2 separate regions of the Homo sapiens genome follow, and region 1 is linked to region 2. Evidence: fine-mapped expression QTL. Tissue or cell type: whole blood. Region 2 holds a variant in brackets; the other region holds the start of a gene. All regions are shown on one strand. Distances are between the middles of the regions.

Evidence for each region. PIP is the estimated chance that this variant, and not a neighbour inherited with it, causes the effect.
Region 1: it holds the start of KLHL26, and the variant in region 2 is the best candidate, but not a certain one, in a credible set for the expression of KLHL26 in whole blood (TOPMed, PIP 0.54).

What each region holds. Positions count from the first base shown.
Region 1 is chr19:18,634,838-18,638,995 of GRCh38, forward strand. It overlaps KLHL26 (kelch like family member 26), which reads left to right and starts at 2,191. Exons shown (of 3, transcript NM_018316.3): 1 at 2,191-2,300. The coding sequence starts at 2,218. RefSeq lists silencers at 1,336-1,525, 1,566-1,645, 1,656-1,815, 1,866-2,375 and enhancers at 1,862-2,156, 2,115-2,629, 2,630-3,144.
Region 2 is chr19:18,664,853-18,669,010 of GRCh38, forward strand. KLHL26 (kelch like family member 26) reads left to right here. Exons shown (of 3, transcript NM_018316.3): 3 at 2,812-4,158. Among named protein-coding and RNA genes, the nearest start is that of CRTC1, 17 kb to the right of the region's middle. The variant T/C (reference allele first, on the strand shown) is at 2,005.

The DNA of each region.
Region 1 (4,158 bases), 30 kb before region 2:
ACACAGTGTGTCCAAAGTGCAGTGAGTCTACAGCACACTATGTGTGTGTGCACAGCCAGGAGCCCAGAGAACCTCTTCTTTCTTATCTTCAGCTGTGTGTCTTGTGTGTCTGACATATGGGTCAAATCTGGATGTTTATGAAGTGTGCGTGCATATGGACACCATTGATTTCAAATGTTATTTGTGGCGGGTGTGTCAGCTGTAGGTCGCTGCTGAGTGAGGTTTGATGCCTGCATGTGGTTCGTCTGGAACAAAGACTCCTGGGGCGGTGCTGACTTAGGGCAGGCAAGGGTGTGTGTGTGTGTGTGCAGAGCTTGCCGGAACGTGAGCTGTTCATGCACGCGTGCATTCAACATTTGCAGAGTGCTTACTGTGTATTGGAGATGCCAGCAGTTCCCTTCAGCACTTGGTATCTGTCAGCTTGCACAGGGTCATCTGAGAGCATTTTGTGTAACGATTGAGCACGTATTGTTGTATCAGGCCCTCTGTTGGAGATGCTGGTTGAGTGCGGTCCAACCTGCAGGAGTCCACTCAAGCAGGCCCCTTCCTTCCTCCTATGGGGTCTCCAGCCCCATAGCCACCTCCTTCTTCCAGCACTGACGGGAAAGAAGGCTTTGAGCTCCTTCTGGATCACTGCTTTCTGCCCAAGACTGCACAAGTCAGAGTTTTCTGACTTGGAGGTTAAAAGAATAAATGAGCTCCAAGCTACAGAGGGGATCCTGGGAGCCTGGAGCTTACCAGAGATGGGGGGTGAGGGGTGCCCCCAAAAGGTCTAGATGCTTCATAGACGCCTATAGATGCAGGACTTTGAGCCCTGGCTGAGGGTCAGTGTGTTGGGAGGGCTGGTGCTTGGGGATCTGAGGGTGTTGGGTCCGGTGGAATGGACTTTGGGAGTGTAAGGTTTGAAGGATCTGTGGGCAGGGATTTGGGGGAGTGGGAGATGAGTTTTGAGTAGAGAATGGGAGATAATTGGATGTGCAGGGTTTTAGAGTATGAGAAACCAGAATTGGTGTATGAAGCAGGTGGTGGGAACCTAAGGCCAGATGATTGGGGTCTCAGGGTGGAGGCTCTGAAGAGGGTATGTCAGGGGAGGGTGGGGAACCATGAGGGGCTGGAAGTCTGAGGCCTGGGCATGGGTGAGTTTCGCCCCTGAGAGAGGCCTGGGAAGGAGGTAAGACTGGAGTCGGGGTGTGCAGGGTGGGGAGAGGGAGGGTGTGGTTCTCAGAGCTTAGAGACCCATTTCTCCATGCTCCATCTCACCCTCCCTCCCACCCTACCTATAACTCACTTCCCTGTGGCTCCAACGCCTCAAAGTATAACCACGCCCAGCCAACGCCCGGGGCACGCCTGCCAGCGCCCCAGGGCACTCACAGACACTCCTTAACACCTGCACGTGCCCCGCCCCTCCTCAGATCCGCCGCTCACTTAGCCCGGCCCCACCCCCATCAGATGAGGCTCCGCCCCCCCGGCCCCGCCAATCCCTCGCCCCCTCCACGCACACACCCCTGATCTTCCCCGCCCTCCTTCCAACCAGACTCCACCCCTCGCCCAGGCCCCGCCCTTCCTCAGACCAGGCCCTCTCTTCGCTTGACCACATCCATCCCCAGATTCCTCCTCTCTCCTGCCCAGACCCGCCCAACCTCAGACCCATCTTCTCCTTTCTACCTCCCCGACCACTCCCCCACCGCATTCCTAACCTCCACCTTGTCCCTTCTCACACCTGGCCCCGCCCTTTATCCTGCGCCCCGCCTCCTCCGCAGGCCGGACCCTTGTCCCTCCTCCTCTTGCCCTGGGCCTGCCCCTTCTTCAGACCCCGCCCCACTCCTCAGCCCAGGGACCAACCCCATCCTGCGCCTACTTGTCCTGCTTCGCCCCGTCCCCACCTATCCACAGACAATACGCCCTCTCAGCCCAGAACCGCTTCCCTTTCAGACTTGGTTCCGCCCCTCACGCCAGGGTCCCGCCCCAATCCGGCACCCCTAGCCCAGGCCCCGCCCTGGACCCACCTCTCTGCATAGCAGGCCCCTCCCTTTATCCCAGACCCGCCCCGGCCCTCCGTAGACCACGCCCCTCCGATTCCGGGCCCGCCCCAATCCTTGGTTTCTGGTCCCGGCCCCGCCCCTCCGCAGACCTGGCCCCGCCCCGCCCCCCGCGTCTCGGTTTCCCGGGCCTGCGCGCGCGGCTCCCGTCACTCGAACGCGCGACGGCGGGGGGAAGATGGCGGAGTCCGGCGGTAGCAGCGGTGGTGCTGGTGGCGGCGGCGCTTTCGGCGCGGGCCCGGGCCCCGAGCGCCCGAACAGGTGAGACCCGGCCCGCAGGATAGACCTGCACCTGTCTTGGAGCCCAGGAAACCTGTGGGCAGTCTTGGGCGTCCTGAGGGGTTGAGGGGAGGCCTGGCACGGCTCGAGGGTCTTTCGCTGAGAATTTGGACTTTACGGGGCCGTGGGGTACTGGAGGAGCCGAGGGCTACTGAGGGGGTGGCTGGAGGGGGGCTGGGTGCCCCAGGACCTCGAGGCGTCTGCAGGCGGCCCTAGGGACCTGAGAATCCTGGGGGTCTGAAGGGAAACCGAGGGGCTCTTGACTGTGGTGGGCCGTGGGGCAACTGGGGATGCCAAAGGGCCTGGGCAGCAGAGAGGGCCTGAGCAGGGGCCATGCCATGGCCAGTCTGAGGGTGGTGAGGTGTCTTGGGGGCTCTGAGGAAGGGGCTAAGGCCCAAGGCATCCTGGGAGGTGCTGAAGGGCCCCAAGGTGGCTAAAGGTGGTCCTGAGAGCGTGCTGAGGGGCGCTGGAAGGAGTAGAGACTGTGGGAGGCTCTGGGTGGGGGACTTAGGTGAATCTGGGAGTCTGAGATGGGGAGGCTGAGGGGGCCTGGGGTGGGTCTAGGGAACCTGAGGGGGGTGAGAGAACTCCAGGGGGTTTATAAAGAACATACAGAGGGTTCTTCTTTGGGGCTCCTCCCTTCCATCCCCATGGGGTCCAAATCCACATCCCCAACAGGCTAAAGGACTTACAGAAAGGTCTTGCCCTCAGACAAGGGGACAGAATTCACCCCTTTGGTCAGAGGGAGGCCCCCTTTCCCCATGGCCCAGTCCTGACATGGATTGCTTGAACGTCCAGGTTTGCATGACAATTAGTTATCATCAATAACTAATGATATGTGTGTGCATGCATTGTATTGGATTGTCAGAGGGAAAGAACACCTGCCTTAGGAGTGTGATCTCCTGCTCTTTTCCTATTGGGCAAAGCCAGACCCTCCCACCCCAGCTCCTCCTCTAGCCCAGCACCCAGGTCAGGCCAAGGAGGAAATTCAGGCTTTTTCTTGCTGGTGAGCTTCCAGGAGCCAGTAATTTCAGGCAACATGATAAATGATGAAGTTGTTTGATACTTACGTGCTGTGGAGTTTTGGACCTGTGGGCTGATTGTTGGAGGGAATGGCCTGATGGCCTGGCTGTGTGATTTGGTACTGAATGGAACACGCATGGGATGGGTGGGGAAGGGAGGAGGGATGGCTGGGCCAGGGCACAGAGGAGGCAAAGGCCCTGCCTGTTCCTGAGGATGCTGAGTGGCACCTTGAGACTTAGGTCTGTGGGCATTGAATCTGGTCTGCCAGAGGGGCCATGGGGAACCCAGGAGGTGTGTGTCCAGAGGGGTGACCAGCCTCCTGGGGTAGGTGTGGGGCAAGATTGTCCTGCAGTAGGGAGCCAGGAGATGTCAGAGGATTTTCAGAGATATTCAGGGAGTGGCCAGGGCTTGAAAATTGGGTATCAGTTGGCAAGTAAGGGACAGGGAAGAGGGACAGTGAACCCCAGGTCCCTGCCTTGGGCACTGGAGTGGGATAACCTGGGGCTAGGGCTTTTTTTATTTTTATTTTTTTGAAACCCCGTCTCGCTCTGTCACCCAGGTATCTAGGCTGGAGTGCAGTGACGCCACCAAGGCTCACCGCAGCCTCAAACTCCTGGACTCAAGTGATCCTCCCACCTCAGCCTCCTGAGTAGCTGGGACTACAGGTGTGCACCACCACACTTGGCTAATTTTTAAATTTTTTGTAAAGACCAGGTCTTGCTCTGTTGCCAGGCTGGTCTCAAACTCTTGGGCTCAAGCAATCTTCTTGCCTCACCCCTCACTAAGTGCTGAGATTACAGATGTGAGCCACCATGCT
Region 2 (4,158 bases):
AGATTATAGGCGTGAGCCACCGCTCCGGGCCCCTTCTGATTTTAGAGAGAGGTTTAATGTCCAGTAAACCTGCAGGTTTCCCGGAGTTTGCATCTTACTCTCTTTGGGCAGAACATGCCTGGAGGGACAGAGATGGCCTGTGGGCACCCACTCACTTCTACCCTGCATGCAGGGTGGCAGGGCTTGGCCAGGTTTTTGATCTGTTTTGTTTTTTTTTTTTTTGAGACAAAGTCTCGCTGTGTCGCCCAGGCTGGAGTGCAGTAGCACAATCTTGGCTCATTGCAACCTCCGCCTCCCGGGTTCAAGCGATTCTCCTGCCTCAGCCTCCCGAGTAGCTGGGACTACAGGCGCATGCCACCACACCTGGCTAATTTTTTGTATTTTTAGTAGAGACGGGGTTTCACCATGTTAGCCAGGATGGTCTTGATTTCCTGACCTCATGAGCCACCTGCCTCAGCCTCCCAAAGTGCTGGGATTACAGGCGTGAGCCACTGCGCCCAGCCCAATCTGTCTTTACTTGACGCCTGCTGTATGCCAGGCACTATTCTAGTCCTTGGGATGCAGCAGGGATGACAGTGAAATGGGCACAAGCCCCTGCCCTCAGGGCATCCCCTCAGGACACCTGGAGCAGGACAGCTGGGGGACTGGAGGGGCATCGAGGGCCGCAGAGACCCTGTGTCTGCCAACACCATGTCCTGGGCTCTGTCTGAGGCCCAGATGAGTTCTCCTCCCTGTCTCCCTGAGCTGTGGGCACTTCCCCAACGTGACAGAAGAGGCCATGGCGGGCACTGTCTGTCTGTCCCTGTGCCGTGGCCGGGCCGGAAGTGAGAGCACCACAGAGCAGGGCTGTGGGGTGGGGGGTGCTTTCTCCTCGCCAGCTGGGGGCTGTTGCAGGGCTGAGTGGTCTCCCTCCCTGGGTGACCAGCAGGTGAGCCTCCTTCCTGCCAGGTGGTGACCCCGCCAGAGAGAGCTGGGCCGCCCTGGGGAGGCTCCCAGGCCCCAGCCCAGGTGTGCCGCTCAGCCACACATTCCCCGAGGCCCGGGCCGCCTGCCCCATGGGCTCAATGAGGCTGTTGTGGGGGCCGCAGCAGCCGAGCCAACTGGGGCGCCGCTTCTATTTTTATTCTGGATTTGGGGACGGGTGGGCCAGCCCAGCCAGCAATGCCCTTTAAAGGCTCCCCTGTGCTGGCACTGCAGCCAGCGAGACCTTAAAAGGCAAAGCTCCCTCCTGTCGCCTGCGACCGCCTCTGCCTTCATCGCATCATGCCCGAGGGCCAGCGTGGACCCGTGGGGACAAGCGGGGCAGGGTCTGGGGAGCTGGCAGCGTACTTACTGCTCCTGGACCGCTCAGAGATGCTGAAGAGCTGCTTGTTGGGCAGATGTCAGTGGGCGGCCCCGAGATAGTGCCCTGGCAGCTGTCCTTGCCCCTGTAGCCCTGAGCCTGGCTCACAGGAGGTGCAAGACTAGGGGACAGGCCTCTGTGGGTCAAATGCACAAGGGATGTTCCCTCCTCCTCGGACGGCCATCAGGGGAGGTGCACTGGCAGGAGTGAGAGTTACTATGCCATGCCATTGCGCCTCCTGGAAGGAACCGCCCATTCCCCTGGAGCTGGGGTGCTCTCCCCTCTTCTGCTGGGGAACACCCTAAACGCTGTAGGGGAACTGTGACCTAGAACCGTGTGCCTCCCCGCTGCCCTCCCTCACGGGGGCCTGTGTCCCCTCCCACTCTCATGTTCTGCCTCGCAGAGCACAGCAGTACAAGGGCGGAGCTGGGGTCTCAATGGAGGCTGGGGACGTAGCTGTTGGGTGGGAGGTGCTTCCCCGACCACCTGAGCCTGTCTCTGGAGACAGCAGTCACCCCAGCACAGCCTCCTGGTGGGGGCTCCATTCCTGGGGACCCTCATTACCTTCCCCTCTTCACATGATGGTTGTTGAGACTCAGGCTGGGCATATCAGAGCTGCCTGCTTAGGTCAGTGAACAAGGTGAGGGTTGAACTGTGGTGCA[T/C]GGCACCTCCAGAGCACTGGCCTTGCAGTTCCTGAGCTCAGGTGTCAAGTGGGGCTGCAGATCTGTCCCCAGAGCCACAGGGTGTGTTCTCATCCTGCACTGCCATACCTGGCCCCTCTAACCGCACCCCCGACAGGCACATTGTGGGTGAGGCTGACCCGGGCCACCGCTCCTGCAGCTCCAACACGATCTAGTCATGAAGGGGCAGGGGCAGGGTCCTCTGCAGAGGGGCCAAGCAGGGAGTTGCTATTTATAGGAAGATGCATGGCTTGGGTGGATTCAAAATCTTTTTTTTTTTTTGCATGTTTTTTTTGTTTGTTTGAGACAGAGTCTCACTCTTATTGTCCAGGCTGCAGTGCAGCATGATCTCGGCTCACTGCAACCTCCAGGTTGGTCTTGAACTCCTGACATCAGGTGATCCACCCACCTCGGCCTCCCAAAGTGCTAGGATTACAGGCGTGAGCCACTGTGCCTGGCCTTTGCATGTTTTTGTTTGTTTGTTTGTTTGTTTGTTTTTGTGACTGAGTCTCACTCTGTCACCCAGGCTGGAGTGCAGTGCCAGTGGTCTCGATCTCCTGATCTCATGATCCACCCGCCTGGGCTTCCCAAAGTGCTGGGATTACAGGCATGAGCCACCGCGCCCGGCCCCTTTGCATGTTTTTAATGAGCATTCCGCCTACTTTCCTCTTGCTGGCTGTGCCCTGTGTTCTGTGTCCCCAGGCTACTGTTCCCCAGGCCAGATCATTCCTGGCTGGCCAAAACACCCCTCAGCCACTGCCAGCCACACGTTGTGTTTCTGCCCTTCAGGGCCATGTTCACCGGCGGCATGCGGGAGGCAAGCCAGGACGTCATCGAGCTGAAGGGCGTGTCGGCCCGTGGCCTGCGGCACATCATCGACTTCGCCTACAGCGCCGAGGTGACACTGGACCTGGACTGCGTGCAGGACGTGCTGGGCGCGGCCGTGTTCTTGCAGATGCTGCCCGTGGTGGAGCTGTGCGAGGAGTTCCTGAAGGCGGCCATGAGCGTGGAGACCTGCCTCAACATCGGCCAGATGGCCACCACCTTCAGCCTGGCCTCGCTGCGAGAGTCGGTGGATGCCTTCACCTTCCGGCACTTCCTGCAGATCGCCGAGGAGGAGGATTTCCTGCGCCTGCCACTGGAGCGCCTGGTCTTCTTCCTGCAGAGCAACCGGCTGCAGAGCTGTGCCGAGATCGACCTGTTCCGCGCGGCCGTCCGCTGGCTGCAGCATGACCCGGCCCGGCGGCCGCGCGCCAGCCACGTGCTCTGCCACATTCGCTTCCCGCTCATGCAGTCGTCCGAGCTGGTGGACAGCGTGCAGACGCTGGACATCATGGTGGAGGACGTGCTGTGCCGCCAGTATCTGCTGGAGGCCTTCAACTACCAGGTGCTGCCCTTCCGGCAGCACGAGATGCAGTCTCCGCGCACCGCCGTGCGCTCGGATGTGCCCTCGCTCGTCACCTTCGGCGGCACGCCCTACACCGACAGCGACCGCTCGGTCAGCAGCAAGGTCTACCAGCTGCCTGAGCCGGGAGCCCGCCACTTCCGCGAGCTCACGGAGATGGAGGTAGGCTGCAGCCACACGTGCGTGGCCGTGCTGGACAATTTTGTGTACGTGGCCGGGGGGCAGCACCTGCAGTACCGCAGCGGCGAGGGCGCAGTGGACGCCTGCTACCGCTACGACCCCCACCTGAATCGCTGGCTGCGCCTGCAGGCCATGCAGGAAAGCCGCATCCAGTTCCAGCTGAACGTGCTGTGCGGCATGGTGTACGCCACGGGCGGCCGCAACCGAGCCGGCAGCCTGGCCTCCGTGGAGCGGTACTGCCCCCGGCGCAATGAGTGGGGCTACGCCTGCTCGCTGAAGCGCCGTACCTGGGGCCATGCTGGGGCCGCCTCAGGGGGCCGCCTCTACATCTCGGGTGGCTACGGGATCTCAGTGGAGGACAAGAAGGCCCTGCACTGCTACGACCCCGTGGCCGACCAGTGGGAGTTCAAGGCGCCCATGAGCGAACCCCGCGTGCTACACGCCATGGTGGGTGCCGGCGGCCGCATCTATGCCCTCGGGGGCCGCATGGACCACGTGGACCGCTGCTTCGACGTGCTGGCTGTGGAGTACTATGTGCCGGAGACGGACCA